Regions from separate parts of the Homo sapiens genome. Here regions 1, 3, 4, 5 and 6 are each reported to be linked to region 2. Evidence: microRNA targets listed by miRTarBase, many of them from high-throughput screens and not tested one by one. Region 2 holds a microRNA gene; each other region holds the end of a gene's coding sequence.

Region 1 (5,150 bases), not on the chromosome of region 2:
GAACTATCTGAAAAGGAAATTAAGAAAACAATCCCATTTACAATAGCATAAAAATAACAAAATACTTAGCAATAAATTTAAGCAAGGTAAAAGATCCTTGCTTAAATACTTAAATAAAATACTTAGCAATAAATTTAAGCGAGGTAAAAGAACCTTGCTTAAATACTTAAATAAAATACTTAGCAATAAATTTAAGGGAGGTAAAGGATCCTCACTTAAATTTATTGCTAATTATTTTATTATTTTTATGCTATTGTAAATGGCATTGTTTTCTTAATTTCTTTTTCAGATAGTTCATTGTTAGTGCATAAAAACACAACTAATTTTTGTATGCTGATATTGTATCTTGCAACTTTAATGAATTCATTATTACGTCTAACAGGTTTTTTGGTGGAACTTTTAGAATATATACTGAATACCATAAATATATAAATACTATAAAATATAGAATATATACTGCAAACTATAAAATATTGATGAGAGAAATTAAGGTACAAACAAATGGAAGACATTTTATGTTCATGGATTGGAAGAATACTGTTAAAATGTCCATACTACCCAAAGCAGTTTACAAACTCAATGCAATGTCTATCAAAATTCCAATGGCATTTTTTTTTACAGAAATAGCAAAAACAATCTTAAAATTTGTGTGGAATCACAAAATACTCTAAACAGCTAAAGCAATCTTGCAAAAGAACAACAAATCTGGATATATCACACATCCTGTTTTAAAGTATATTACAAAGCTGTAGTAATCAAAACAATATGATACAGTCATAAAAACAGATACAATGAAACAGAATATAGAGTCCAGAAATAAACTCACACATATGCAGCCAACTAATCTTTGACAAGGGGACCAAGAATATACAATAGCAAAAGGAGCCTCTTTAGCAAATGGCGCTTGGAAAGTCGGATATGTACATGCAGAAGAGAGAAATTGGACCCTTATCTTACACCATATACCCTTATCTTACACCATATACCAAGTGACCACAGTATCATCTCACAAGCCAGAAAACTCTGCTCAAAAGATGCCAACTGTCTGCCAATCAAATGAAACAAGATAATTGCTAAGTCCCAACGAGACATTTTAGAACTTGACACACACTGCACAATTCATCTGGAAGAAAAAGCACATGGTCACCGCAGGGCCTTTCACAGGGCCGGTGAAGAGGAGGGTGGGCCTGTCCTGGCAGATGTGAAAAGGCCACAGAGCTGCAGGTGGAGACAGCAGAGCACAGAAGGGGCCCCTACGGCAACTAAGAGGCAGGCATATGCCCACCAGGGAAAAGAAATGGATTACTCGATCACGCCCATTGTTTGGGGATAGATCTAGATAGCTGGCTCTCAAACCTTACACAAAAATTAATGCTAGATTGGTTATACAATTACAGGTTAAGCAGTAATTCATTAAAACGGTGGTGAGAATCTGGGCAAAGGCTACCCTTGCATACATAAGCCCAGCAAGGGACTGCTCTCTACGCACTCCAGCAAGCCAGGCCCTGAGGAAAGGACACGTGGATTTCACAACACGAGAAAAACTTCCACGTGCAAACTGCAAACTGCAAGACAGTTATTTGCACACAAGGCATAGGAGAAGTTGCTGTGCTTTAGAGAGTTCCCATCCATCAGGAAGAGCAAACATCTCCAATGAAAAGGGACCAGTGGAGGCCGGGCGCAGTGGCTCACGCCTGTAATCCCAGCACTTTGGGAGGCTGAGGTGGGTGGATCACGAGGTCAGGAGTTTGAGACCAGCCTGCCCAACGTGGAGAAACCCCATCTCTACTAAAAATACAAAATTAGCTGGGCGTGGTGGCGCATGCCTATGATCCCAGCTACTTAGGAGGCTGAGGCAGGAGAATCGCTTGAACCCAGGAGGCAGAGGTTGCAGTGAGCCAAGACCCTGCCATTGCACTCCAGCCTGGGTAACAAGAGAGAAACTCTGTCTCAAAAAAAATAATAAAAATAAAGAATATGTTCCCCAAAATGCTCAGAATGCTTATCCCTGAATTTTAAGATTAAGATGATTTTCTCATTTTTAAAAATTAGTTGTTAGCATCTTTCTCTCATCCAGGCCAGAGCACAGTGGTGCCATCACAGCTCACTGTAGCCTCACACTCCTAGTTCAAGCAATCCTCCCACCACAGCCTCCTGAGTAGCTGGGACTACGGTGTGTGCGACCACACCTGACTAAGATCTTTTTTTTAGAGACAGGGTCTATGTTGCCCAGGCTGGTCTGGAACTCCGGGGCTCAAGCAATCCGCCTGCCTCGGCCTCCCAAGTCACTGGGATCACAGGTATATGCCACCTCCCCCAGTTATTTTTATCACTCTTGTCTTTGCTGTCTTCTTTCTTAAATAAGCGTATATTGCATATATAATAAAAAATAAAGCTATATTCATTTGGGGAAATTATGTTGCAGAAAAATATTTAATAACATAGATGTTCATGGCCTAGTTCAGAACAGAGAGGATGCTCCCACTTTTAGATACACGTCTGTCTGTGTGCACTCATGCCTGTAGAGATCAGAAGGACACACACAAAGCGTTGGCCATGGTAATATCCAGGTGTCTGTGATACGCTTTGGATCTATGTCTCTGCCCAAATCTCATGTTAAATTGTAATCCCCAATGTGGGAGGTGATTGGATCCCGGGGGCAGACTTCCCCATCTGGTGCAGTTCTCGTGGTCATAGAATTCTCACGAGATCTGGCTGTTTTGAAAAGTGTGTGGCAGCCCCTCCCCTTCCTCCCGCTCCAGCCATGCGAAGTGCCGGCTTCCCCTTCTCCTTCCGCCATGATTGAAGCTGAGCACATGCCGCCATGTTTCCTGTGCAGCCTGCAGAACCCTGAGCCAATTAAACCTCCTTTCTTTATACATTTTCCGGTCTCTGATATGTACGTGTAGCAGTGCGAGAATGGACTAATACAGTGCGGATAATTGTCACTTACAGGTTCTTTCTTTTGCTTTGTAGATATTCTCTAACTTTTATAGAATTAAGTGTACCATCAAATAAGTATCCATTAGCAGCTTTTTCCTTTCTAGCAGAGGTAGTGGAAGCCGGGGGTGCCTACACCCACCCAGCATCCCAGACCCCCCTGAGCAGGAACAGCTCTTGGCGGCAGGGAGCCAGCTCACACAGTTACGACCCTCCCAGGGGCAGCCTGTGGCTGGTGACCAGCCGATGCAGGGGTACAAAGGCCTGGTCCCTGCGTCCGTTGGGAGCCCCTATGAAGAGCCACCCAGCGGTCAGCTTGTCCCTCTGCCCAGGCTCACTGCTGACCCCTTACAGAAGCCTTTCCCAGGGCACCCCCAACAAACCCCCAGCATGGAGCCCATCTTTGGCGAGACCAGGAAAGTCAGTAAAAAAAAAAAATCACTGCAGGTGCAGCTGCTTTGACAGCCACAAGCCAGCCTGGAGCGGGGTCTCACCTGCTTGGCTCCAGCCCCGACACAGGCTCCCACCCCCCACACTCCCAGCTATTCTGCCCTCAGCAGCAAACCCCCATCGTCCTCATCCCTGGACGCTGTCCCCTTGTCTCCGGGGATGCTGTCGTCCTTCTCCAGGTCCGCCCCTCACTGCGCATCTTCCCCTGCCCTCTCCGTGAATTTCCACGCAGGCCACCCTCGAAGGCAACACTGCTCCCTGTCATGTGCTCCAGGCCCTCCTTCCTCTCATTCCCAGTGATTTCCACAAACACCATCGTCCCCAGAACACTCAGCACACAGCAGACACTCCGTAAGTGCACGGGGAACAAACGAGCACCGCAAACCCCAGTAGGAGCCTTGCACCCATGGGCACCTGAGCAGGGAGTGGAGCCTGCTGCCGCGGGCTCCTGGCAAGGTCCCAGAACAAGCTCCAGAGACCCAGGAGCTGCCCCCACCGCCATCTCTGCAGCAGGCTCCGAGTCCTGACCCTCACCTGCCTCGTCCATCAGGATGGCCCAGGCCATGCCCCATGGGAGGCCAAGCAAGATCAAAGCCAGGGGCAGAGGCAGGCACGGGCTCCACAAAAGCTCTGGGACTTTGCCCAGCTAGGGGCAGAGCACAGCACAGACTGTCAAAATCACCCCGTGGGGCCAATTTATTGCGAGGTCGCAAGGGAGACACTGCTACAAAGCATGACCCCAAAGGTGCAGAAATGCCTGCATTAGGCTGGAAGATTCCCTGAGGTGGCTCAGGCAGGTAAGAAACCCACACAGTCCTGGGTCCTCCCCAAGCCTCGGACGTGCAGCTGCTGCTTCACTGGAATTCTTCTCTCCTCCTGGAAACTTGCTCCAGTTGTGTCACTGGAGGAGGAAAAGGTGTGGGGGAGGGGGAAGAGGGGGCTGGAGCTGGCCTCCCCCGAGGCCTGGCTCCAGAACTCGGGCTGTGTGGGGCGGCTGAGGACTGTGCTCTGTCTAGAGCTTTTGCAGGCAAGGAGTCGGGATGCAGCAAGGACTGAGGGCTATCTGCCGTGACTCTTCAAAGAGGGGCCTGCCACACCCACCAAGTCCCATCCTGGAGTCTACAAGCCAAGGAGCTGCGACCTCACCGAGGGCGCCTGTTATTAAAAGCCCCATTGGCTGCGCGCGGTGGCTCATGCCTGTAATCCCAGCACTTTGGGAGGCCGAGGTGGGTGGATCACCAGATCAGGAGATCGAGACCATCCTGGCTAACACGGTGAAACCACGTCTCTACTAAAAATACAAAAAATTAGCCTGTAATCCCAGCTACTCGGGAGGCTGAGGCAGGAGAATCACTGGAACCGGGGAGGCGGAGGTTGCAGTGAGCCAAGATCATGCCACTGCACTCCAGACTTGGCGACAGAGCAAGACTTCGTCTCAAAAGAAAACAAAAAGCCCCATTTTATGGAGGGGGAAGGAGGTCAGCAGCCATTCACTTCAGGGCACAGGCCTAAGGGGGCAGGGGCTTTCCCAGACCCACTCCCGTCCCCACCAGGCCGGGAACCCAGCCAGGTCCCAGTAGAGCGGTCACCACTGCACAGCTTCGCACACCAGCCTCGGCAATGCCCGCCACCCTTGCGGCACCGGGCCCTGTTCACACCAAGGAGGTGAGGAGGGGCTTGCGGGAGACCAGAGTGTTTCTAGAAGCAGACACCTGTTGACGTCCACACTAAGACAGACATCTGAGACGGCAGGCTGGGAG
Region 2 (5,134 bases):
ATGCATGCGTCGTTGAGGTGGCACAGCAGACCTGGGCAGGCAGCGGCGGTCAGTGGGCACGGCCCCTGGGCCAGGCATGGCACACCACCCACGGCTGGGGTCCAACCCCACTGACACCCCAGGAGGAGCTGCCCGCCGTGACCCCGTCGGGCATCCCGTGACACTTGGGACGTTCCGGGGGACTCACAGCGACCACCGGCCTCCCTGACCAGAAAGGCCCTTTCAGGTTATCCTGGGTGCAGGAGGGCCACAGTCCCTGGGTGAGGTCACACAGCTCAGGCCTGGCCCATGTGAGCCCCCTGCGCCCACCTGGGCCTCAAGGCACTCACCTGTGCGGCCATGGGGACACTCGCAGTAGAAGGAGGCCACACGGTCATGGCAGGTGGCGCCGTGGAAGCAGGCGGCGCTGGCACAGTCATCAATGTTCTCGCTGCAGTCCTCACCAGTCCAGCCGTTGACACACACGCAGTTGTAGCCACCGTGGGTGTTGTGGCAGGTCCCGCCGTTCTGGCAGGCATTTGGCATCAGCTGGCACTCGTCCACATCCTCGGTACAGTACTGACCTGCAGGGAACAGGAGCTGTCGGCCCCGGGCAGCTGCCACTCCCTGAGCTCCCTGTCCCCTAAGACGCAGGGTGGCAATGCCGCCCCCTCCAGGAAGCCTTCCTGGGCTGACTCCTCCACCCACCGCCAGCCTAAATCACTCCTTCCTCTGCAGGCCCAGCACCATGGAGTCTTGCCTCCTCTTTGTGCTCTGTGGACACTGCTGCGTCGGGGTGCACCTTTGCCCGTCACCCCACCAGAGGGTAATTCCCGAACACAGGGCCTGTCTGTTCATCCAGGCATCCCTGTGACTGGCCCAGGAAGCGTGGCCTGAGTGGGGTGCTGAAGGCCCTCAATGCCAGGACACCCCACTGGGCACAGGGGCTGCCTGGAGCCAGGTTGCAAACGGCCCACACAGACCAACCAGGGCCCTGTCTGTGCTGACCCCCGAGGTGAGGGGCACCAGACCCTGGCCACGGGAAGTGGGGCCCCCATCATGTTGTCCTTCTCGGCCAACCCTAGTCTGCCTGGCCTGGGACAGGGTCTCGGCTGCTCCCCGCTATGCCTGTGAGTGCAGTTTAGTAAGTGGGTAGCAGCCCCGCCCCGGCTACCCCGCCCTGCGGCGACCCGTATACGCGCCTGTCCACTCTGGCGGGCAGCGGCAGTTGTAGGTGTTCACGCCGTCCACACAGGCACCCCCGTTCTTGCAGTTGTTTCCTGGACAATCGTCGATATTTTCCTCACAGTTCTGGCCGGTGAAGCCTGCCGCAAGAGGGGCCGGGTCAGCCTCTTCCCTGAGGTCCAGTCCGGCTCCTGCCTGGACCCCCGACACACTGCTCTGGACACAAGAGCCTGGCCTCCACGGCCCTGCCCTGGGGCCCCCGGGGTCTGTGCCCGTCCCCTGCCTCACTCCAGTGCCCAGAGGGACACGCCCTGCTTGAAAGAATCATTTTGGACAGGACTGGCTAAACAGGGACTCAGGAACACAGGGTTCCAGAAGATTCTGTCACAAAAACCCTTGGGTCTCTTTTAAGAGGTTCCGGCAGCTCCTGCACCTGGGTGCCGCCTGCATGCTCAGAGCTCCCTACAATGTCTCCACAGGGGGGCCGCACACCCCATCTTCAGGGGCTGACACTGGGGCCTGGGCTCTGAGCAGCAGGGGGACATGGGGCCAGCAGGCTGCTGGCTGGGGCAGGGTGGGCCCCTCGCAGCCCCAGGGAAGCTGCAGAGATTCAGATGGCCCATCCTCCCTGGGGCAGAGCTCTGGTGCCCACCTCCTCCTCCCCCTCCTCCTCCACAGGCTGCCAGGGCCCCCTCCCCCGAGGTATGGCCCCACCCAGGCCTCCAAGGCAGCCAGTTAGCTATTAATCCACTCAACTCCCGCTGGTTCAATGATCAACCCAGAAAGGCGCGTTCGGCAACAGCCAAACCTGCAGCCGGTTACTAATTGCCGCCCTCCCGAGATGCCTTTGAACCCCCGTTGCCCTTGGAGCTCCCACCTGCTCGGCCCCTCCCTCTGAGACATTGCCCCACCGCCACCACCCCGTCCGTTCTGTCTGTCTGCTGGACCGGAGCAAAAGCAGGCAGCCAGAGACAACCAAAATCCAAAATGCAAATCAGCTTGGGGAGCACCCAAAACCAGACCCCAGCCCTGGCGCGGTGGCTCACGCCTGGAATCCCGGCACTTTGGGAGGCTGAAGTGGGTGGATCGCTTGCGCCCAGGAGTTCAAGACCAGCCTGGACAACATGGCGAAACCCCGTCTCTACAAAAAAAAATACAAGAAGTAGCAAAGCGTGGTGGCGCCGGCCTGTGGTCCCAAGCTACTTGAGGGGCTGAGGCAGAAGGATCGCTTTAGCCTGGGAGGTCAAGGCTGCAGTGAGCTGAGGGCACGTCACTGTACTCCAGCCTGAGTGACAGAGACCTGTCTCAAAAAAAAAAAAAAAATTCAGAGCCTGGAGCCTGAGTCCCGGTCCCACTCATGTGTGGGGCCCTGCACCCCGGCTCCGAGGCAGATGGGGCCCCTGGCTGGGCCTGCGACCCCAGGGCTGCCCTGCAAAGCACTGGCTGAGGCACACAGTGGGGGAGAGGGCGGGAAGCCAGCGAGAGCCCCGTGGACCCCAGCTGGACCCTCTGCGACGTAGCCTCGGCCAGCGACCCCACGAGGAGACAGTGCTGACGTGCCAGGCAGGCTGTGCGACCCCAAATCCCAGCCAGTTCCCGGGCCTGCAGAGCTCAGGGCCGCCCCCATCTCGGTTCCCCGTGACTCCACACACAGCTGTCTCCTGGGCTCCTGACCACCCAGAGGTGGCTGAGGGCCCTTCAGGGGGCCTGGGTGCAGGGGCCGCCGGGGACAGTCTGAAGCTGGGGTCTGGCAGGCCTGAGTCATTTGGGGAGGCCCCCGGATGGTCATCTCACCCTGAAACGGCCAGACTCCACAGCAGGCAGTGAGCACACCCCTCACCGGACGGGTGACCCAGCCCCCAGCACCCCAGCCTCTGAGATCTACCCACACTCAAGTGAGTGAACCCCACCAGCCCCTCCCCTTCCCTCCCTGCCCACTCCCCAGGGCCCTGAGCTGCCCCTGCACGGGCAGTGGCTCTGAGCCGGCCCAGCACCCCTGGCATCTCTGCCGCTGGGCCTCACCAGGAGGTCCTCACCCACCCTGCCCAAGGCGGGTGGGCATCAGCTCTGCACACAGGTGGCCTTGGACAAGGCCGCACACACCCCACCTGCCCTAGCCTGAACCACGGCCCCCCAAGAGCTTGGCCCCTCAATCCGTGTGACTGGAGGTAGGGTCCCGTGCTGCTAGGAAGGCATCTGAGCCCCCACCAGCAGAAGGGCTCTGCGCCCCACCCTGCAGAGATCCAAGCTGGCCAGGGAGTGTCTGTCCCCACCCCACGCTCGCCCAGTGACTTGCAGGAAACGCACACGTCTGGTGTCTGCACGCAGAGGTGGCTGGGCTCAGCTGACTGGGCAGCCAGGGAGCTTCCCCTTTGCAGGGGCCAGGCCAGCTTGGGGCTTCCAAGGGGGTGGGGCAGCCCTTGGGCCACCCGTGGGTCAGCCAGGACCCTGTGCACCCTCCAGCCCCACCCCTGCCTGAATGCCCTCTCCCCATTCCCACCTAACAGCCATTCTGTGCAGCTGAGATTGGAGGTTTTCTTTTTTCTCTTCACTTTTTTTTTTTTTTTTTTGAGACGGAGTCTCGCTCTGTCGCCCAGGCTGGAGTGCAGTGGCGGGATCTCGGCTCACTGCAACCTCCGCCTCCCGGGTTCAAGTGATTCTCCTCCCTCAGCCTCCTGAGTAGCTGGGACTACAGGCGCGTGCCACCATGCCTGGCTAATTTTTTGTATTTTTAGTAGAGACGGGGTTTCGCCGTGTTAGCCAGGATGGTCTCCATCTCCTGACCTTGTGATCTGCCCACCTCGGCCTCCCAAAGTGCTGGGAGTACAGGCGTGAGCCACCACGCGCGGCCGAGACTGGAGGTTTTCAAAACTCTTCCTTATTTTTAGAGCTGCTGCAAAATTTACTCAAACAAGAACTACAGCAGAGAGGCTCCTACGTACAACACGGGGATCGGGGAGCACTGGGGACACGGGCAGGCGGCTGCGCCTACCTGTCACCCACACCCGCAGGAGACCAGCAGGATGGCAGGAAGGGCCATGGCTTGGGAAGTGATGGTGCCCCCGCAGCTCCCACGCCCTCTCCGGCCCCAGCCCCACTGCAGGGGAAACCCTGGGGGTTGCGCAAGTCAGGGTGCCTGCACTGGGGGGAGGCAGGGCGTCCTACAGCTCGAATGTGAGTTCCGGGAAACTCCAGAGACACGGGCTGGCACCTGGACCCTGTGCAAGCCTCCTCCCAGCGCACACCCCGCTCCAGACGCGTCCCCCCGACACCACACGCAGTCTGGGGAACTCGCCATCCCGCCTTCCCAACTCCCCGCCATGGGCCCTCCCAGGGCTGCCCCTACACCAGGCGCCCCGTTCCCACCCCCTGGGCCTGGCAGCCGGGGAGGGGCTCGTGCACCCCGGCCAGCGGGCAGCACTACCTGGCAGGCAGGCACACTCGTGGGTGACGTCGCCCGTGGGGCGGCAGGTGCCCCCGTTCTGGCAGGGCGAGGGGCTGCAGGGCACGTAGGGCCGCTCGCAGTTGGGGCCAGTGTGGGTGGCGCGGCAGACGCAGCGGTAGGAGCCGACCTCGTTGTGGCAGGTGCCTCCGTGGCGGCAAAGCCCGGGCTTCTGGCCACACTCGTTGACATCCTGCCGGCAGGTGGGGCCATGGAAGCTGGGTGGGCAGTGGCAGATGTAGGAGGCCTCGAAGGGCAGGCACTGGCCACCGTTGGCGCAGGGGTTGGAGGCGCACGGGTCAGCCTGCTGGCACGATTTCCCTGGAGACAAGGGGACAAGAGGGTCGTGCTGGCCTCACTGCTCCCCGAGGCCGGGCCTTCCCTCCCTTCAGGCCACCTGGAGGTGCCAGCCTGGGCTCCACCTTAGGTGCTATCACATTTGATCCTCAGGACCTGCCGTGAGACCGGTCGCCTTTGGCAGATGAAGGACCACAGCTCCCAAGAGGCCTGAGCCTGGGCCGTCTCTTC
Region 3 (5,166 bases), not on the chromosome of region 2:
GAAGAGGGGCTGGAGATTGAGCCAATCACCAGTGGCCAATGATTTAATCAATCGTGCCTAATGAAGCCTCTATAAAAACCCTAAATAATGGGGTTTGGGAGGTTCCAGGTCAGGGACAGCACCCCATCCACATGCCAGGAGGGTGGCTCACTCCAACTCCACTAGGACAGAAGCTCCTGTGCTTGGAACCCTTCTGAACCTCGCCCTCAGTACCTCATCACCTGTTTGTTTATATCCTATGTAACATCCTTTATAAACAAGTAAATGTAAGTAAATGTTTCCCTAATTTTTTTTTTTTTTTGACAGGGTCTCATTCTGTCACCCAGGTTGGAGGGCAATGGCGTGATCTCTGCTCACTGCAACTTCCACCTCCTGACTTGAAGTGATTCTCCTGCCTCAGCTTCTAGAGTAGCTGGGATTACAGGTACCCGCAACCACGCCCAGCTAATTGTTGTATTTTCAGTAGAGACGGGGTTTTGCCATGTTGGCCAGGCTGGTCTCGAACTCCTGATCTCAGTTGATCCACCCGCCTCGGCCTCCCACAGTGCTGGGATTACAGGCGTAAGTCACCGCGCCCGGCCTGTTTCTGTGATTTTTGTGAGCCATTACAGCAAATTATCAAAACTGAGGAGGGGGTTGTGGGAACTTCCAAATTTGGGCTGGTCAGAAGTACAGGTGACAAGCTGGGACCTAGAACTGGTATCTGAAGCAGGGGCAGTCTGCTGGGACTGAGCCCTTCACCTGCAGGGACCGTGCTAACTCTGGGTAGTGAGTGTCAGAACTGAATTTTAGAACAGCTGGCTGGTGTCTGGAGAGTCGGAGAATTGATGTGGGCGCCCCCCTCCCCACTAACATTGGTGTCAGAAGTACTGGGAATGTAGAAAGTTTTTCCTTGTTAGGTATCCAAAAAGATCTCCCACACCTGGATCCCATGGAAGGCAGCTGGGAGGGCAGGAGGTGGCTGGCTTCAGAGAGCCAAGGAGGTCTGGGAAGTCAGGAAATGGGTGTGTGGCTCAGCAGTCAGGGGCAGCGGCACCCTCTTCCCCAACTTCTTCAACCAAACACATGGTTGGGCCACAGCACCACATGGATGAAGGTGCCACCACCAGCCCTGAGAGTCACCGACATTCGTGCAGAGCTTCCCTGGTGTTGCACCAGGATGCAGGACCAGCGTCACGGACTCCAAGCCGGTGTGGAGTAGGAAAGCCCTGGGCAATCCGTCAGTAAGGTCCTTCCAGCCTGGGCTGGAGTCATATCCTCAGCCCCACTTTCTCCAACTCTTTCCTGGAAGCCCAGAGGTGCCACACACAGCTGCTGGCCACACACACTCACATAGTCCCCAGGGCCCTGGCTGAGGCTGGGGAGACCCCTATTGGCCACAATGTGGGGATGAAGTTCCCACCCTGCACAGTCACTGTAGCAACCACCCTGTGCTGAGAACCACACTCCAGGGACCAACATGCACTAGAAAAATGTCACACAGGAATACACACTCAGAGGGCACTCGAGAAACATTTATTGAGCACCTACTATGTGCCAGGCCCCAGGCAGGACACTTGGAAAACAAAGTCAATACAACCTGGTCCCTGCCCAGGAGCTCACAGTCTAGAAGGCCAAGCCATTAATCATAGAACAGCAAAGGGGCATTTGGCTTCACAATTTTACAACAAACTTTTACATACGTTTTCTCAAGTGTAAACACCCAGCAACACAGCCATGTTGTTTTAAAAGCACATTGGCATAAATGTAAACACAAGTCACAGGATTGAAAGGATGAGAGAAAACCATTTGCAGTATTTGTGCTTGCAGAACCAGATTTTTAGCATTATTTATTCCCTCCTATCAGGTAGGATACAAGTTTTGCCAATCTGTGGATAATGGTGTTTGAGACATGGGAGTTCCGTGGCCGGCCTGCCTGCCTGCCATCATGCAGTGGGGGAGCCACACTAGATACAAGGCATCCTGAAGCCTTGGCCACTGCCTTCTGTCCACCACACCTGTCTTTTAATGTCCCCTAGACAAAGACCCTGTATATTTCTAGGCTCCTCCTGAGCTTATCAGATGGGGAGAAGGGATCATGTCCCAGGAGCCCACCAAGTCGTGAGATCCCTCATACCTGGCTTGGCACATGGTGACACCCCATCAGGTGAGCACACAGCACACGCTGCCCAGGCCCAGACCCTGCCTGCCCGAGATGAACTTCCTGGTTAGTCTCAAAATCTGGCAGTGTTGGCCGGGCACAGTGGCTCACGCCTGTAATCCCAGCACTTTGCGAGGTCGAGGTGGGTGGATCACCTGAGGTCAGGAGTTTGAGACCAGCCTGGCCAACATGACGAAAACCCCATCTCTACCAAAAAATACAAAAATTAGCCAGGCATGGTGGTGCACGCCTGTAATCCCAGCTACTCGGGAGGCTGAGGCAGGAGAATCGCTTGAACCTGGGAAGCAGAGGTTGCAGTGAGCCAAGATCGCAGCCTGGGTGACAGAGCAAGACTCCAACTCAAAAAAAAAAAAAAAAATGTGCCAATGTCAGCGTCCTACAGGAATAGCTGCCCTCCAAGTCCCACCTGTGCCCCCACTTCTCCTATGTGCACATTTGTCAGCATGTGCAGAGGTATACAGTCCTGCTTACCACACCTGCCATGGGCTCTAAACAGGACAGTACAGCTGGGGTTTGAGAAGGGGCTGCCTGTGTGCTCCATCTCACCAAAGGGAAAACCACGCACAGATCTGGCCCCTGTTGGTTTAGTTTAGGAAGGTAAGGAATCCGGTGAAGAGACCAAAAGTGGCCTCCTCATGATCCAGGGAATAGGGGAAACCAGCAAGTGTTTGGGTTTAATTAAGCCAAGGGTTGGGGGGGATGAAGGTGGACAGCTGAGGGTGCAGGCCTGTAGGGCTGGAAAAGGCGGGGCTGAGTTTAGGACCCCTGTGCCCCTCACCATCATACGGAAAGGGAGGAGAGGCATCTTTCTACCTGCAAGCTGGTTACCGCCATTTCACTTTAGAAAGCTCAGGATAAGCCGGGCGTGGTGGCTCACGCCTGTAATCCCAGCACTTTGGGAGGCTGAGGCAGGTGGGTCGCCCGAGGTCAGGAGTTCGAGGCCAGCCTGACCATCATAGTGAAACTCTGTCTCTACTAAAAATACAAAAAATTAGCTGGGCATGGGCATGGTGGTGGGTGCCTGTAATCCCAGCTACTAGGGAGGCTGAGGCAGGAGAATCACTTGAACCCAGGAGGTGGAGGTTGCAGTGAGCCGAGATCGCGCCACTGCACTCCAGCCTGGGCAGCAAGAATGAAACTCTGTCTCAAAAAAAAAAAAAAAAAAAAAAAAAGAAGAAAAGAAAAAGCAAGCAAGCAAGCAAGCAAGCTCAGGCTAATTCCCAGCTCCCTGGTTGTGAGCACCCCTGGGCTTCTACAGTGACCTCTTTTGGGCAGAGGCCTACCAGGTGAGCCAGAAGGTACAATGTTAAAGAAAATTGTTTCTGACCCCCTTTCCAGAGCAGAGAGGAAGGGAGGGGGTGAGACGCCCACAGGTGACTGATAGCACAAGTCAGCCCTCGTTCCTGGGCTCCACAGAGGCCTGCCCTGGTGCTGTCCCACCTTCAGGAGAGGTGGCTCCCTGGCTCCCCCCAGGACCATCTTCCAACCCTCCTGCCCCTCAGGGTTGCTCTAGGTGGCCAGGTATCCTGCTAGCAAACCCTCTCCCCCAATGATGGCCCAGACGGAACTCTTAATAAAAAAAAATAATTTATTGTCAACAAAGGTGATATATACAACAGGAAAACAGATGTAAATGAGAACGGGAGTGAATGGGGTGCCCAGGCCCAGCTTCAGGCCTCTGCAGGGGTGGGACAGGAAGAGGTAATGGAGGCCTCCTGGTTTAGAAGCCTGAACAAGTGGGGAGGAGAGGTGTCCCCCGAGGTAGTGGGACTCAGTTCAAACCCCCTTATGACCACTCTTGTGTAAGGCACTGTGCCAAGGGAGAATGGTGGGGAGCAGGGGGAGGGTGGGAGGAGGTCATGGGGGACAAACAGAGGTGGGGGTCAGCGAAGGACTGGGGTAGGTGTTCTCCACAGGCCCAGTGCCCTACTGCACAACAGCCTCAGCCACCCTCGCCGACCTCAGGCCTGGCCAGGAACAGACACTTTCCAGTGCCCCGAAATAACAGTGGATGCTGCCCCAGCCCCCTCCTGCCCTGGCACCTGTTTCTACTCTCTCCACCAGGTGGGTGAGCCAGGCAGCTCTGAGTTATAAGCCACTGGGGGACGCTGCCTCATCCCTCCCTCCCTCCCCAGGAAAGCAAGAATTTACACTCCATTCCCTTTTTCCGGCTTCCCTGCCACAGTGGTGCTGGATTCTGACAGAACTGTGGGCCAGTCTGAGGTGTCACCTGCTCCCACACGCTTGGTGCCCTGGGGGTGCCTGGACCAGTCTTGCAGGAGGCTGACCGCTGGGGGCTCCTCCATCCGCACGCGGATAACCTGGAGATCCAGTGTCCCGCGGAGCCCCGGAGGGGGAGCTGGGCAGGGATGAGAGCAGAGAGCAGTCAGAGCCCCCCAGACACCCCACCACGAGGATGCCCCCTGGAAGCTCCGCAAACTGTACCCACATTTCCAGGGCTTTCATTATGTCCACAGCCCAGTGCCTGGCATGAGGGGAAGCCCAAGGATGGCAGGGAGCTCCACTCCTGGGTGATCGAGGACTGCTGCCAGCTAGAAAATGAGGCGCACAGCCTCCCTAGGGACAAGCCAGCTGAAGCCAGGCAGCCTTCCTCCTGTGTGTATTTTGGCACAGGGACGCCTGGTGCTCGTGCCTCTTCCTGTAACTCCTACCTGCAGCCAACTCCATTTTATCTCAAACTTACTGGGCATCCTAGCCTAACGGGTTCTGCCTGAGTGGGGCAGAGGTGATGGGGTGGGAACACCCAGAAGCAGTCTAAGGCATAGCTGTGCCCACCAAGGAGCTCATGAGGGACTACGTGGGGGACAGAAAAGACCCCTGGCGAACTTCCACCAGGCTCTTTATCTCCTGAGTGTCAACACCTACATCACCAAGACCAGGTGTCCACCTTACCAGTATGGAGAAGGCACTCATAATGGGCAAAGCTGGGCCTCGAGGCAGAGGAAAGAGGACTGAGGACTGCCGTGGCTGCGTGCAGCCATAAA
Region 4 (5,166 bases), not on the chromosome of region 2:
CTTTGTTCTCCTTTGACGTTGAATGTCTCAATGCCTGGGTCCCACAGTCTCTCGCTTCATCTTTCTCACTGTTCCCATCTTGACAGGGTGTGGGCTCCCGCCTGGATGGTCTTCGAAACCGGGGCCCAGGTTGCACCTGGGATTCTCTACGAAATTCAGTAGGAGAGAAGATCCTGTCCCTCCGCAGTTGCTCCCTGGGCTCCCTGGGTGCCCTGGGCCCTGCCTGCTGCCGTGTCCTCAGTGAGCTCTCTGAGGAGCAGGCCTTTCACGTCAGCTACCTGGATATTGGTATGGCTAGCTGGGGAGCGAGCCAGGGGATGGTGGGGGCTGGACCGGAGCAAGTAGAAGGGGGTGATGATAACGTGAACGCACCCCTCCCCAGGGCTACCTCCCCCAACATTGCCTCCCTCCTCTCTCTTGCTCTCCAGAGGAGCTGAGCCTGAGTGGACTCTGCCAGTGCCTGGTGGAACTGTCCACCCAGCCGGCCACTGTGTGTCATGGCTCTGCAACCACCAGGGAGGCAGCCCGTGGTGAGGCTGCCCGCCGTGCCCTGCAGTACCTCAAGATCATGGCAGGCAGCAAGTGAAGCCCCAGCTGGACTCATGGATGTGCACCCTTTGCTCCCTGCTCTTTCTGCCTCTGGGCTCATGTATCTGCGCAGCTCTGGTACCCTCTGTGGGTGCCATCTCTACCTCTGACACAGACTGCCTGCCTTGAAGCTGAGAAGGCACAGGGCAAGGAGCCAAGGACCACAGAGCCTCAGCCAGCCCAGGATCCGTCCTCATTTTATTGGTGATGATGAATGGGAATGAAATCAGGGGGCTGTCTACTAGAGCCTGGAATAAATATGCTGCTTTGTGGATTTTTAAGCCCTTCTCTTCTGTTTCCTTGAGCAGTGTGGATAGCAGAGGAGGTCACCACATTACTTTTGTGTGCCTTCCCTGAGCTCCTGTTCCAGCCATTCTCCTGTTTTCCTTTCTGGTGGGAGGAGGCTGGGCACAGTGGCCTCGTGGAATGTTGTCGGCTGCCTTGCTGGAGGGCTGGGTTTGGTGGAGGGGAAGGGCAGTGGTTCTTGCCCTTGGGCTTCCACCCAGCCCTGTAAAGTCTCACACAGACACACATGGATTCAGAAGCCAGACAATTTTATTTGGGGGGCAAACATTGACACTTTTGGGTGTGGACCTTGCATGCAGACATATCAAGGGATGACATGTCACTTCTTCCCAAAGCGTTGAGGGGCAGCCAGGCTCCAGAACTGGGAATTCAGCCCCTCTCCAGCCCGGGGACTCAGCCATTCATTCCTCCAGGATCCCTGGGTATTTCTGCCAAACCTTAGGAAAGATTTGTCCTCAGGTCCCCGCAGTCTCCCTTCTCTAGCCCCCTTCCTTCTCCTCTTCCTCTGCCTCCTGCCCTTTCCACCCCCAGCCCCTGCCATGCTTGTGTCCCTTTCAGACTCACCTCTGGGGCTGAAACAGGAAGGCTTGGCTCCGGCCAGGTCTCTCCATTGCCTGGAGCAGGTAGTGCAACAGTGACCCAGAGGTCTGGGCATCCTGTGGTGGGAGGGGTTCGCTGTCTTCCTCCTGTGCCAAGGGGGTATCAGGGAAGGAAGATGGGCAAATACCCTGGACACGTAAGTCACAAGGGGAAGGGACTGGCTTCCAGGGGCAAGTGGTAGGAGGCTGCGGAACCATTTCCTCAGATGTGAGGACCTAATGACAACCTTGGCAGCCAGAGAAAGTATCAGAACCTAGAGCACAAGTCTCAACCGAAGTAGAGGCAATGGTGATATGGGGATGGGACACACACTCACCGCGGAGAGCTGGTCTTCCTGCTGGCCTCCTGGCCCTTCAGCACAGCCCCCGTCTATTAACAGCAGCAGCACCAGCAGTGCAGCAGCCTGCCTAGAATCCATGCTGCCACCTACCCTCCTACAGCCACCCCAACCTCTTATACCTGCTGTTCCCCCACCCCCAGCCTCACAGTAGCCTTAGGGGAATCTAGAGCAGGCAAATGGAAATGCAGGGCTCATTAGGAGCCACCTGGGATCTCCTCCCATGGCGCCCCCAGGACTTCATGCTCTCAGCCTCCTGCCCCCGGCCCCTAAGCCTGGAGTTACAGACTTTATTAGATGCATAAATCCTGTCTCCAGAGCTCAAGAAGCATCATTAGTTGCAGACGCTTTGTCAGAGCCAGGCCCTGGGGAGCCTTAGACGAACCCCTAATCCCTCAACAGGTTGGAGAGCTTGTTTATCACTTCCCCTCTTTCCTAACCTGTAGACTAAAGCACAAGAAACTCATGTCAGGAGGGGTTAAGTAGGATGTCCTGGAGTGGAAGAGGAGTGGGAAGAGCCAGGGTCAGAGTCTGTGAGGATGACCAGGCCTGGTCCTCTGTGCCTGGGGCTGGCAGTCAGGGCAACACAGCCCATCCTCTGCTTGTGTGCCTCTTGGAGGCTACTCAGATTTGCCTGTGGATAGAAAAAATATATTCAACTTCATGATGATGGAGAGAATTTAACTTTTTTTCTTTTTGAGATGGAGTTTCGCTCTTTTTGCCCAGGCTGGAGTGCAGTGGCGCGATCTCGGCTCACTGCAACCTCTGGCTCCTGGGTTCAAGTGATTCTCCTGCCTCAGCCTCCCAAGTAGCTGGGACTACAGGCGTCAACCACCATGCCCAGCCTGTATCTTTTTTTTTTTTAATTAAAAACCATTTTTTTTTTGGCCGGGTGCAGTGCCTCACACCTGTAACCCCAGCACTTTGGGAGACCAAGGCGGGTGGATCACCTGAGGGCAGGAGTTCGAGACCAGCCTGGCCAACATGGTGAAACCCTGTCTACTAAAAATACGAAAATTAGCTGGGCGTGGTGGTAGGCACCTGTAATCCCAGCTACTCAGGAGGCTGAGGCAGGAGAATCGCTTGAATCGGGGAGGCAGAGGTTGCAGTGAGCTGAGATGGCACCACTACACTCCAGCCTTGGCAAAAAGAGAAACTCTGTCTCAAAAAAAAAAAATTATTAAGATATAGAGGGAGGCTACAGGATTTTGGAGCCCACTGAATGAGTGTGGCTTCCAATCTTTGCAGACAGACCCCCATCCTCACTAGAGAGCACTGCTTCCGACCTGCCTCATCGCCCTTCCTATAGTCACTCTCCACAGCTGAAGCACTGCTGCCACCCTGTGGTCACAGCTCCTCATTGCCAGCTCCGGCCATTTCCTTTTCCTAGAATAGACCTCTGCAGAGGAAGTGAGGAGGGTGAGGCTGAGTGGAGGTGCTAGGGTCCAGTCTCCAGGGAGTCCCAGAAGGACAGGAGCAGGCTACTGTGGGGCTGGACTATCATTCTGACCCCGACTCTGGTCTCCACAGCCTCTGCCTGGCCCTGGCTCTCATATAGAGTAGCCTAGAATCCTGTCTTAAGAAAAATCAGAATCACTAATCCTCAGGGAGAGGCCTTCAAAGCCATATGGTGCAGGTTCCTTCTAATCCTCGAGTCCCTTTTGGAGCATCCCCACCAGTGTGGGTCTCTAGCTTGTGCTGAGGAAGAGCCATGACGTAAAGGCCTTGGCCTCTGCTTGAGCAAGCTGTCTCCCGCTCTGAGCTTCAGTTTCCTCACCTGAAACATGGGCCCATTTTACAAGGAACGCCTTCCTAGGGTGTGCATTACTTAACATACTTTTTGTAATCCATTCAATAAAACAGCTTGCATAGAACAGGTATCCTCAAAACGTTAGCTGTGATTGCCTCATGTGCCCCAGTCGGGGAACTTACCATCTCCTCAGACAGTCTTCGGACATATTTATCCTTGTGCCGAGGGGGCTTTGGGCTTCCTGTGACTTCTACTCGGGGTCTTAGTTTGCTCCATTAAGTCTCAACAGAACATCTCATCTCTTTCATGTGTAAAAGCTCTTCATATTTTTGAAGAGAGAGTTCATTCTTACACTCCAGCTTTTTTTTTTTTTTTTTTACGATGGAGTCTGGCTCTGTCACCCAGGCTGGAGTGCAGTGGTGCGATCTCGGCTCACCGCAACCCCTCTGCCTCCCGGGTTCAGGCGATTCTCCTGCCTCAGCCTCCCAAGTAGCTGGGATTACAGGCACACACCACTATGCCCGGCTAATTTTTGTATTTTTAGTAGAGATGGGGTTTCACCATGTTGGCCAGGCTGGTCTTGAACTCCTGACCTCAAGCAATCCACCCACCTTGGCATCCCAAAGTGTTGGGATTACAGGCGTGAGCCACCGCACCTGGCCCACTCCATAGTCTTTTTTGCTCAAGGGGAAGCACCCCACTCTTTAAGGCAAGGCATCTAGGAACCAACTTATCCTTTAGACACGTAGATTAGAGCAGGTTTGGATCTGGATGCTCCAGATACCATATTTCTGTTAATGCGGACTAAGCCAGGGTAAACCTTTTCGTAAGCTTTGTCTCATGGTTGGTCCCAACCACAAAACCTGACATTCATCATCATGGTATCTTGTAGTTTTATCTTTTTTTTTTTTTTGAGACGGAGTTTTGCTCTTGTTGCCCAGGCTGGAGTGCAATGGCTTGATCTCGGCTCACCACAACATCTGCCTCCCAGGTTCAAGTGATTCTCCTGCCTCAACCTCCCGAGTAGCTGGGATTACAGGCATGCACCACCGCGCCTGGCTAGTTTTGTATTTTTAGTAGAGATGGGGTTTCTCCATGTTGGTCAGGCTGGTCTTGAACTCCCGACCTCAGGTGATCCGCCCGCCTGGGACTCCCAAAGTTTTGGGATTACAGGCATGAGCCATTGCACCCGGCCAGTTTACCACTTCTTAAAAGGGAGTATCAAGGCCACGGGGAGATGGCTTTTCTGTGGGCAGTAGCTGCTGCATCCCAGAATGATCCTTGTCTGCTCCTGTGTGACAGAGGTCCAGAGGAGCAGCGGTGTGAGGGTGGATGGGACACTGCAGAGCTGGTTCTGGGCCAGACAGAACTCAGTTGTAATCCTAGCTCTTGCACTTCACTGTGTGACTTGGCTAAACCTCAATTTATCATCAATAAAATGAAGTGACTACTCCTGTTATCACTAGGTGAACAGTAAAGCAATCTACCATTCCACGTAGCATAGGGCAGCCATTCCATGTTTACCATCCTGCTGCTTCTAGTATTTCTCTAAACATCAATTACAAGTGGCTCTGGGCTGAGCTGC
Region 5 (5,166 bases), not on the chromosome of region 2:
CCGTGTCATCATGGCTCTGTCCTTCTGTCTCTCGGATCTATCTTCATTTCACTTGTAAAATAGACTTGGAACTGGTGAGCTGAGATTGATAGATACCCTTCCCTGTTTAGGAATCCCAGTGGGGTTGGAGCACCTTGTCTCTGCCTGTCATGGAAAATATGTCCTGTGCATAGATCAATTCCAGAGAAGCATTTTGGTTAGCTGCTTGAGTTGAAGAATGAGGAAGGAGATGTGATTGATGGTCCTGTCAAGCCACATGTAGGGGAGGGTGTGGCATGGTTCCCTTTTGAGGGGGGCTGGGCAGCCAAAACAACACATTAACTGAGGCTGGGTGTGAGGATAGAAAGAGTTAACATGAGTACCACACATGGCAGAAACCCTAACAGAACACTTCTGCCTCTATTGGCAGCCAGACGCGTGTAGGGGTCCCAGAAAATGGCACTGATTCCCGGTCTTCCTTTGTTTCTCCCCAGCTGGATGAGGCAGTGGCTGAAGCCCACCTGGGCAAGCTGAATGTGAAGTTGACCAAGCTAACTGAGAAGCAAGCCCAGTACCTGGGCATGTCCTGTGATGGCCCCTTCAAGCCGGATCACTACCGCTACTGAGAGCCAGGTCTGCGTTTCACCCTCCAGCTGCTGTCCTTGCCCAGGCCCCACCTCTCCTCCCTAAGAGCTAATGGCACCAACTTTGTGATTGGTTTGTCAGTGTCCCCCATCGACTCTCTGGGGCTGATCACTTAGTTTTTGGCCTCTGCTGCAGCCGTCATACTGTTCCAAATGTGGCAGCGGGAACAGAGTACCCTCTTCAAGCCCCGGTCATGATGGAGGTCCCAGCCACAGGGAACCATGAGCTCAGTGGTCTTGGAACAGCTCACTAAGTCAGTCCTTCCTTAGCCTGGAAGTCAGTAGTGGAGTCACAAAGCCCATGTGTTTTGCCATCTAGGCCTTCACCTGGTCTGTGGACTTATACCTGTGTGCTTGGTTTACAGGTCCAGTGGTTCTTCAGCCCATGACAGATGAGAAGGGGCTATATTGAAGGGCAAAGAGGAACTGTTGTTTGAATTTTCCTGAGAGCCTGGCTTAGTGCTGGGCCTTCTCTTAAACCTCATTACAATGAGGTTAGTACTTTTAGTCCCTGTTTTACAGGGGTTAGAATAGACTGTTAAGGGGCAACTGAGAAAGAACAGAGAAGTGACAGCTAGGGGTTGAGAGGGGCCAGAAAAACATGAATGCAGGCAGATTTCGTGAAATCTGCCACCACTTTATAACCAGATGGTTCCTTTCACAACCCTGGGTCAAAAAGAGAATAATTTGGCCTATAATGTTAAAAGAAAGCAGGAAGGTGGGTAAATAAAAATCTTGGTGCCTGGAAGAATTTTGAGCCTTTATTTTATAGATAATCCTCTGCCAACAATGTATGCCATGAATAGGGGGTTATAGTCGTGCTGATGAAGCATTCACGGGGTACTCTGCAGTGGAACGGCTGTCTGTGGTCCTTAGGCTTGAAAGAATGGGTAAAGTGAAGAGGGAACTCTTTCGTTTTTTTTTGAGACAGAGTCTCGCTCCGTCACCCAGGCTGGAGTGCAGTGATGCAATCTCAGCTCAATGCAACCTTCGCCTCCTGGGTTCAAGCGATCCTCCTGCCTCAGCCTCCTGAGTAGTTGAGATCACACCCAGCTAATTTTTTTTTGGTATTTTTAGTAGAGACGGGGTTTTACCATGTTAGCCAGGCTGATCTTGAACTCCTGACCTCAAGTGATCTGCCTGGGATTATAGGCGTGAGCCACTGTGCCCGGCTGTTTGCAGTATTTTTAAAAGTGCACTAAGTGGGGACTCACATTAAGTTCTAAAGATACAATGTCAAGTAAAACCCTTAAGTCACACTCAATGGCCCATGATCAGTGAGGCATGAGGGGCTGAAAACTGCTCACTCTGGCTTAGATGCTCATCAGTGTGTCCTGCCTGACAATTAATTCTTACCTTTTCTTTTTCCCTGAGTGCACATAGTTTAAGTTGCATAAGTTACGTGTGTATGTGATGTGACTCTGCTGTAAATAGTGTACAGACTTTGGTACTTCAACTATTATTAGTACCAAATGACAGGGCACCCACTCCCAACTGACCACAACACAAGTGGTCAAAACAGGCTGAGATCTTGCACACTTGGGTGACAGGCATGGTGCAAGCATCTTTTAGAGTTGTTGTTTTTTTTTTTTTTCTAGACAGTCTCGCTCTGTTGCCCAGGCAGCAGAGTGCAGTGGTGCTATCTCAGCTCACTGCAAGCTCCACCTCCCAGGTTCATGCCATTCTTCTGCCTCAGCCTCCCGAGTAGCTGGGACTACAGGCACCCGCCACCACGCCCGGCAAATTTTTTTTTGTATTTTTTTTTAGTAGAGATGGGGTTTCACCATGTTAGCCAGGATGGTCTCGATCTCCTGACCTCGTGATCCACCCGCCTCGGCCACCCAAAGTGCTGGGATTAGAAGCGTGAGCCACCGTGCCTGGCCTTTTTTTTTTTTTTTTTTTTTTTGAGACGGAGTCTCACTCTCGTCGCCCAGGCTAGAGTGCAGTGGCACAATCTCAGCTCACTGCAACCTCTGCCTCCTGAGTTCAAGCAATTCTCCTGCCTCAGCCTCCCAAGTAGCTGGGATTACAGATGCTCATCACCACACCTGGCTAATTTTTGTATTTGTAGTAGAGACAGGGTTTCACCATGTTGGCCAGGCTGGTCTTGAACTCCTAACCTCAGGTGATCTGCCCACCTCAGCTTCCCAAAGTGCTGGGATTACAGGCATGAGCCACCATGCCTGGCCTTAGTGCACTAAGTGGGGACTCACATTAAGTTCTAAAGATATGATGTATCTTTACATCATATGTAAAAAGGTATGGTCTTATTTATTCCTCATAGAGACTTGAATTCCCCTGTCTGAGGCTCTGAGAGGAGCCATAAGCATGAGCTGACTTTTGTATGTGGTAGGACTTAGACCAAAATCCAAGCCCCTTCCACACCAGCAAGGTCAGGTTTAGGAAGGGAGCCTGGATTCAGATTTCCCAACATTAGATCAGGAACTCTGGAACTGTAAACCAGAGGGCTACCCAGAGCCCTGCCTCAGTTCTTCTACTGGGGTGGCTGCTGGGACGATAACTTCACAGTAGAAAAAAGGAGAGGCTGCTGTTCTTCTAAGCCAGAGAGGTTGAACGCCTTCTGCTGCACAGCCGCTGCCTGTGTGTGCGCATGCTCCCTTCCCTCTAGCGTGTCTCCTCCTGGATGTGGGAAATGCTGTCAGAATGCTTCCTCCTGCCAGATCCCATGTAGCCCCCCACCTCCCTTCTTCCAGGAGTTCTGGTTTCTGTTATGCCAGCCTCTTCCTTTCCTGTTCGGAGGTGTCCTGTCAGTTCCCAGAACCTTTTGTTTCAGAAAACACAGCCCCTCTTTTCACATCTGGTCTCAGACTTACCTCTGATTTCAGGTCTGCTAATCTGTCACATGTGTGACACTGACCGGGTACCCACAATGAAAGATGATGTGTCTCCTGCTCCACCCCCAATACCCCAATACTCCACTCCTGATATCTGGGCTGCCCCCATCAAAGCTTCATGGAGAAAGAAGGAATTGGCCAAGGGTCCTGCAGTATCCAGGCCTAGCCCTGGTTGGATTTTTTCCAGGAAAGAGATGGGAAGATGAGGCCTGTGGTTGGTGGAAAGTGGCTGTTTATGGAGCAGTGGACTGAACTTTGGAAAGAGGAGCCCTGGGTCTGCTGCTGACTCACTGTGTTCCCCGCAGGGACAGAAATACCTACTTCAGATGGCTGTCTTGACGCTCGAATGATAGAACATTAGTGAGGAGTTTTTATGCTGAGTTTTTTTTTTTTTTTTTTTTTTTTTGAGATGGAGTCTTGCTCTGTCGCCCAGGCTGGAGTGCAGTGGCGCGATCTCGGCTCACTGCAAGCTCCGCCTCCCAGGTTCACGCCATTCTCCTGCCTCAGCCTCCCGAGTAGCTGGGACTACAGGCGCCCGCCACCGTGTCCGGCTAATTTTTTATATTTTTAGTAGAGATGGGGTTTCACCGTGGTTTCGATCTCCTGACCTCGTGATCTGCCTGCTTTGGCCTCCCAAAGTGCTGGGATTACAGGCATGAGCCACTGTGCCCGGCCTTTATGCTGAGTTTTAAGGGCTGTATGAGACACCAGGTGGTGGGAGGGAGCTGTTTTGAGAGCAGGGAATTTAGGATACTTAGGAAATTAGAAAATTAGAGAAGTCATAGGATCTTGGAACTAAGGGAGAACCTTAGAGTCCTGTGGAGCAGAACCCAGCATTTGTATGTGGAGAAACGGAGGCCCAGAGAAGTTGTGACTTATCCGGGTCACTCTGCAGGTCTGGGTGTCCCACCCGAGTCCATGTCAGGGCTCTTTCTGCACACCAAGCCCCATGCCCACCTCTGTGTGACTGGCTGTGGTGGGAGGGGCCTCCTAGGCTAGAGGTGCTGGGATCCCTTTTCAGTCCAGAAATAATGAGCTTAGAGGGTCTGGAAGTAGCATGGACTAAAACCCAGGAAGGATCCACAGGGACTGTTGATGCCAGTGAGGACTCCAGGAAGCCGGATCACGGGGACTGTTGATGCCAGTGAGGACTCCAGGAAGCTGCTGTTGGGACAGCCCTGCTTTGGGAGTCTGAGGTTCCAGGAAACCCCAGGAATCCGGATTCTCATCCCTGAGACCTACTCAGGACTAGCCCAGGGGACCGAGCTAGGAAACCTGCTTGAGGTGGTAGAGGCAGCCAGGGGTGTGCAGTGGTCCGGGCGGGCTTCGATCAGTTCCAGGTTGGTTGCTTCTCCAAACTGGCTCCAAGACAGGCATGTGGCTCAAGTTGGTCTGGACTCAATCCCGGGACTTTAGGACTTTTGCTAGAAATCTGGTGTGGTGCAGGAGCGACTCCAGGATTCACTCTGTGGGCTGCTTGGACTCAGACTCCCCCAGGACTAGAGGCTGCTTCTCCCTGGTGGGAGGAGTTACAACCTTGCAAGGGTTCTAAAGACCCCCGGGTGCTGGGTGGTGGGCTTTTCCTGACAACTTCCATAAGTTATTGGAACCTAAATTCACACTGCTTAGCATCGTAATAGTCTGATCAACCCTGCTCAGTGTTGTCATACTTGCCCTATTACCAGGGA
Region 6 (5,166 bases), not on the chromosome of region 2:
AAAGATTAGCAACACAACAAAAACGTGTGGCAGTCCTGACAAGATACTTTACAAAAACAGAAAGTCAAATTGGCCAATAAACTTATGAAAAAATACTCAACTTCACAGGTAATAGAGAAATGCAGAGTGACACTTCAATGAGATACAATTGCACATCCACCAGATTGGCAAAATTAAAAACAAAAACTGTTAACACCAGCACTGACCAAGATATGGAGAAATATGGTTTGGATATTTGTCCCCTGCAAATATCATGTTGAAATGTGATCCCCAGTGTTGGAGGTGAGGGCTGGTGGGAGGTGTTCGGGTTATGGGGATGGATATCTGGATCCCTCATAAATGGCTTGGTGCCCTCGTTGAGATGACGAGTTCTTGCTCCATGAGTTAATGTGAGATCTGATTCTTAAAAATGATCTGGGACTTCCTCTATTTCTCTCTTGCTCCTCTAGCCATGTGATACGCCAGTTCCTCCTTTGCCTTCTGCCATGATTGCAGGGATGCTGGTGCAATGTTTGTACAACCTGCTGAACCATGAGCCAAATAAACCTTTTTTCTTTATGAATTACCGAGTCTTGGATATTCCTTTATAGCAACACAAAACCAACCAACATACTAATGCTTAGAAAAAAATTTGTAATCATCTAATAAAATTTAAGATATGAATACCCTATGACCAAAAAATTCTACTCCTAAATATATACTCTTTGTACTAGGAGTTACATAAAATGATGTTCATTGTGAAACTGTAATTGCCTGAAACTAAAAACATCCCAATTGTCTACAGTAAATAAATTGTGGCATATTAACAGAAAAGTAAATTACACAGACATAATGAAGAATAAAGTACAGCTACAACCAACATGAATCAATCCCATCTTGAACAAATGCAGCTACAAAAGAATGTATGATTTTAAATAAAACTCAAAAACAAGCAAACTGTATTGTTTAAGTTTACACACATAGGTGGTAACACTATAAAAACAAAGAGACAATTATCATACAAGGTAGGATAGTGGTAATTACCAAAGGGTACGTGGCAGGGAGCTGGTTGTGACTGGGAAGGAACTACATGTGTAATTTCTGAACTGCTGTCAATATATTCTACTAAGCTGAGTGCTAGTTATATAGTTGCTTTAAAATTATTCCTTGAACTGCATATTTATATTTTATGTATTTTTGAATATATATGTGTTTTTGAAAAATATATATTTCTCAATAAAAAAACAAAGTTATGACATAGAGCAAAATGAACACATATTATCAATGGATACTTAACTCTGATCCTCAAGAGCTCAACTCTGATTTTTTTTTTTTCAGAGAAAGCATTCAGATTATATGTTTTTGAATCTATGAAAAGTAAAATCGCTAAATCCATACACAGTGATTATATAAAATTAGATATTTGCAATCACAATGAATATTCATTATAGTGGAAAGATTTAGGTCACGAGATTTTTTTTTTCCCTAAAAATTTCAAAAGAACAATTTTCTATCTTCATTTTACTAATTATAAAATAAACATAGTTGCTTTTTTAATGTTCCATGAATATCACCAGAGTGTGACATAGTAGATTAAAAAATAAAGATATACATTTATTTCCATGTCCTACCTTTGGGACAATTTATGAGGAACTTATGGACAAGTAACAGAACTGCTTTGAACTCTAAAAAGAAATGGACTTTACAAATCCCTAACCAGTAGTATGGGATTTACCAGATCCTCTAGGTTTTACATGGTCACGACTATTTCTCTCCAACTGTTTTAAAAGAATTTCCTGGAGCCATCTGAGGACATTTGAGGTAATGTCCTTCCACACCTAATAACTGCTGTATCTCCATGATTGCAAACTTGAAAATCAGGAAACACCAAAGCAACATTACTCACAAAATAAACAGCAAAATCAGAATCTCTGGAGTCAACTTATGAAACATGATTTACAAAGATATTCTTACATTTCTTAATTTATTTTTAATAAGTAAAAAATACTCATTGAAACTGTACAAAAATCAAATCATTAATTTTTGCACCTGGTATTTCAGTCATCAACAGCAATCTCATGGTACAGAAATAAAATAATGGGAATTATCATTAACTTCACCCTGGCTTTCTAGCTTAGTAGAACCAAACAGAAGAAATCATGGCAATAACCATTAACTATAGAAAAAAAGTAATGGAAAAATGGTTGCAGGTTTAATCACAAAATGAACTTAATTTTTGTTGATTTTGTTTTATCTGCTAAAACACTAATATCTATAAATATGAACTGACAGCATCGTTCTAAATTTACTTCTGAAGAGCTGTCGAGACTTCAATAAAATATAAGCAAGTTACTGGATCATATTTATGGACTGCTGAATTAACTACCCGAAAAGTATCAGTTACTTTCAAAGAACACAAAACAAAGTGAACGTGGAAAAAAGCCTTCTTTGCAAAAGTCCTTTTATTAGTCCTATCCTCTAAAATTCCAAGCCACAGAGCCTTGATATTCCTGGATTCTGTTTTAAGTAACCTTAGTTTTAAATATGACACTTGGGATATGCACAATGGGAAAGGGTAGGATATGTGAACAAAATTTAATTTCTTTTTTCCAAAGGTAGTCATTTTCTTTAAATTCATCCTATCCACTTTTGCCCACTTCCCCATGTACAGATTATCCTTTAGTCATACAAATTCACTCTCCACTTCCACATACATTTTCCCCACTTGATGGTACTTTTACAAGAGGGAAACAATACAGCTGGTTGATAAAGTAATTTAAACTATTTGTAAATGAAATAAAAAGAAAGTAGGTATAATACATAGTGTAAAAGATACCAAATTGGAGTAATATTGATGTTAATCTAGTTTTTTATTTAACAAAGTACCTACTAATGGTCTGAGCAGGAGAGTAGAAGGAAAGGAGCTAGAGGGAAATTACTTCCTATGGTTAAAAAAAAGCCAACTGCTTCAGAATGCATGACAGTCTTAGTAATAAAAGAATCATTTACTATTTTCACTGAGTTTACAGTGTTGGGTACTACTGTTTACATCATTTTAATGAAAGTATTTATAAAAACATCTGCAATAGTTCATATCAGAAAACAAAGTTTCTCTCAATAAAGACCTTAAAAAATAAATTTTTATCTTCATTAACTCCCTTTCTGGGAATGGGAATGAAATAACATGCTTCTGTTTAAAAAAAAAAAACAAAAAAAACACAAAATTTAATACCCTAATTAGGTTTCTGGAAAAAAAAAAGACTACCCTAGCAATAATTTTTAACATTCTACATTTCATCTATTTCTAAAGACACTCCCTTTACAAAATCTTTTAGTTTTATATATTAGGACAATCAGGTTTAGAGTCTCACATAAATAAAATAGCCACATTAGAAGGCATACTGAAGAATCAAATGGTTAGCCACATTTGTCTGTTCACATTCACGGATTCTCTAAGAGCGTTGTGAGAGTCCATATAATACTGTTCACGTTTAGTCTAAGTTAATATGTCTCATCTGACCTATTGCTCCTACAACACTGATGCTATCAACAAAAATCCTGATTTTGGGGACACAGTGATATAACAAACTGGTTAAACGAGCAGAGGTAATAGGACAGTAAACTGTAACTGCACAATTTAAAATATCCACCCTTCATCCACCACTACCATACTTCTTCCCAGTGGTATTAAATTCTCAAAGCCAAATCATATCAGAGGTGCAGGATGCCAAACACTATTTGCATAGAAAATCAGTCTTCAAGACTAAACAAAAAAGAAATTCATAAAATTAAACTTTTTGAATAGTTGCATTCGTTGCTTTCAATTTCTTCATCCATATCTGTTCTGGTCATACATATTTTTTCCTTCTTTTTATCCAGAGAGATTAATACACAGATTAATACACAAAACTTTTGTAAATAGCATTCCAGTTCAAAGTTGCTTGTGATCATAGCCACGTGTGAACCGTTAGACAAGTGTATGCTATGCCCCAAAATGTTTTATAATTCTTCAGTGCAGTTTCTTACTGATGTTTCCCTTAAAATTAAGGCTTAATGAAAGAGAAATCCATAGTATTATGAACTGATTTTCTTTAGCTTCTGAATTAAGTGCACTCTTTCCAAAATCAAGTGGTCCTGGAGTAACGTTAAGACAACTTGTATTAATCAGTGTCATGACTGAAGTAGTATCTTACTGGAGGTCCCGGCAAATCTTCATCTCCATCAATGTCTGGAGCAAATGACACAGTAAGATCCACATATTTCTTTTCAGTAGTAGGTTTTACAAGTTTATGCATTCTAAGAAAAATAAGCAAGAATGAATACTTTGGTAAATTCTATAAAATGAAAAAATGATTTGCTGACTAATGCCATCCAGAGAACCTGGACTTGTATCTAGACTTTAACATCTAATAATAATCTGCTTTCACATATTCATTTTTCTTTACTAAAAGGTCTGAACTCATTTATACTCAAGACACTCATTTACCTAACAGTGAATAAATTTGGACACACTGGTCATGATAAAGAATACAAACCATTTATTAAAAGACAAAAAAAGGCTCAGCGTGGTGGCTCACGCCTGTAATCCCAGCACTTTGGGAGGCTGAGGCAGGCAGATCACCTCAGGTCAGGAGTTTGAGACCAGCCTGGCCCACATGGCGAAACCCCATCTCTGCTAAAAATACAAAAACGAGACGGGAACAGTGGCACATGCCCGTAATCCCAGCTACTCGGGAGGCTGAGGCAAGAGAATTGCTTGAACCTGGGAGACAGAGGTTGCAACGATTTTAAAAAATTGATTTTCCTCCTAAACTTCCTCTTAAGTTTGGAGGCATCATAAATTCAAGCATTTCTCTGTAAACAGTAAAAAAGCAAGCTAGAATTTAAACCTTAAAATGTAAGCTAGAAATACAAAGTAAAAGACATTCTTAGCTTTTTCCCTTATGTCCAATCTTTATCCTATTTACTGAAAAATCACTCTTTGCTATAGCCACTACTGCCTTAAATGAAGTCATCATCTACACACCCCTTACATCATTGTATTGGCTTCTAGCTAGCTTTCTCTAGTCTCTTTTCTACTTCCAATCTACACTGCTCCTAGAATTCTCTTAAAATATAAATTTGATGTATTCTCCTGCCTAATAATTTTATCATACACTGTGTACCTACTTCATGCCAGGCTCTGAA

What was found. The annotated mature microRNA hsa-miR-4673 reads UCCAGGCAGGAGCCGGACUGGA and lies in region 2 at 1,343-1,364, opposite strand. An mRNA with a match to its seed (bases 2 to 7 or 8) in the 3' UTR can be bound and repressed. Matches are read on the target gene's strand: a 7mer-m8 pairs with bases 2 to 8, a 7mer-A1 pairs with bases 2 to 7 and ends in A, and an 8mer does both.
Region 1: the mRNA of ANKMY1 is a reported target of hsa-miR-4673. The part of its 3' UTR that is shown has no 7-base or 8-base seed match.
Region 3: miRTarBase lists SPINDOC as a target of hsa-miR-4673. Seed matches in the 3' UTR shown: 7mer-m8 at 4,235-4,241.
Region 4: miRTarBase lists TARBP2 as a target of hsa-miR-4673. Seed matches in the 3' UTR shown: 7mer-A1 at 835-841.
Region 5: the mRNA of AHCY is a reported target of hsa-miR-4673. Seed matches in the 3' UTR shown: 7mer-A1 at 893-899 and 8mer at 1,363-1,370.
Region 6: miRTarBase lists UBA6 as a target of hsa-miR-4673. The part of its 3' UTR that is shown has no 7-base or 8-base seed match.

Annotation. Positions count from the first base shown.
Region 1 is chr2:240,475,365-240,480,514 of GRCh38, forward strand. ANKMY1 (ankyrin repeat and MYND domain containing 1) reads right to left here. Exons shown (of 18, transcript NM_001282771.3): 18 at 4,058-4,291. The coding sequence ends at 4,245. Among named protein-coding and RNA genes, the nearest start is that of GPC1-AS1, 21 kb to the left of the region's middle. RefSeq lists enhancers at 2,832-3,341, 3,342-3,851, 3,852-4,361.
Region 2 is chr9:136,518,262-136,523,395 of GRCh38, forward strand. It overlaps MIR4673 (microRNA 4673), which reads right to left and starts at 1,365; the gene lies at 1,307-1,365. NOTCH1 (notch receptor 1) reads right to left here. Exons shown (of 34, transcript NM_017617.5): 4 at 4,589-4,927; 5 at 1,182-1,304; 6 at 330-563; 7 at 1-31. LOC124902310 (a long non-coding RNA gene) reads left to right here. Exons shown (of 3, transcript XR_007061865.1): 2 at 5,057-5,134.
Region 3 is chr11:63,826,282-63,831,447 of GRCh38, reverse strand. SPINDOC (spindlin interactor and repressor of chromatin binding) reads right to left here. Exons shown (of 6, transcript NM_138471.3): 6 at 3,732-4,520. The coding sequence ends at 4,309. Among named protein-coding and RNA genes, the nearest start is that of MARK2, 10 kb to the left of the region's middle. RefSeq lists a silencer at 1-127.
Region 4 is chr12:53,505,563-53,510,728 of GRCh38, forward strand. TARBP2 (TARBP2 subunit of RISC loading complex) reads left to right here. Exons shown (of 9, transcript NM_134323.2): 8 at 87-288; 9 at 429-869. The coding sequence ends at 586. ATF7-NPFF (ATF7-NPFF readthrough) reads right to left here. Exons shown (of 15, transcript NR_159377.1): 13 at 2,272-2,465; 14 at 1,459-1,580; 15 at 1,126-1,331. NPFF (neuropeptide FF-amide peptide precursor) reads right to left here and starts at 1,922. Exons shown (of 3, transcript NM_003717.4): 1 at 1,811-1,922; 2 at 1,459-1,580; 3 at 1,126-1,331. The coding sequence starts at 1,912. The coding sequence ends at 1,214. It also overlaps a transcript of ATF7 not described here. RefSeq lists an enhancer at 3,043-3,337 and a silencer at 3,475-3,707.
Region 5 is chr20:34,276,473-34,281,638 of GRCh38, reverse strand. AHCY (adenosylhomocysteinase) reads left to right here. Exons shown (of 10, transcript NM_000687.4): 10 at 474-1,371. The coding sequence ends at 605. Among named protein-coding and RNA genes, the nearest start is that of AHCY, 24 kb to the left of the region's middle.
Region 6 is chr4:67,614,858-67,620,023 of GRCh38, forward strand. It overlaps UBA6 (ubiquitin like modifier activating enzyme 6), which reads right to left. Exons shown (of 33, transcript NM_018227.6): 33 at 1-4,275. The coding sequence ends at 4,140. Among named protein-coding and RNA genes, the nearest start is that of STAP1, 59 kb to the left of the region's middle.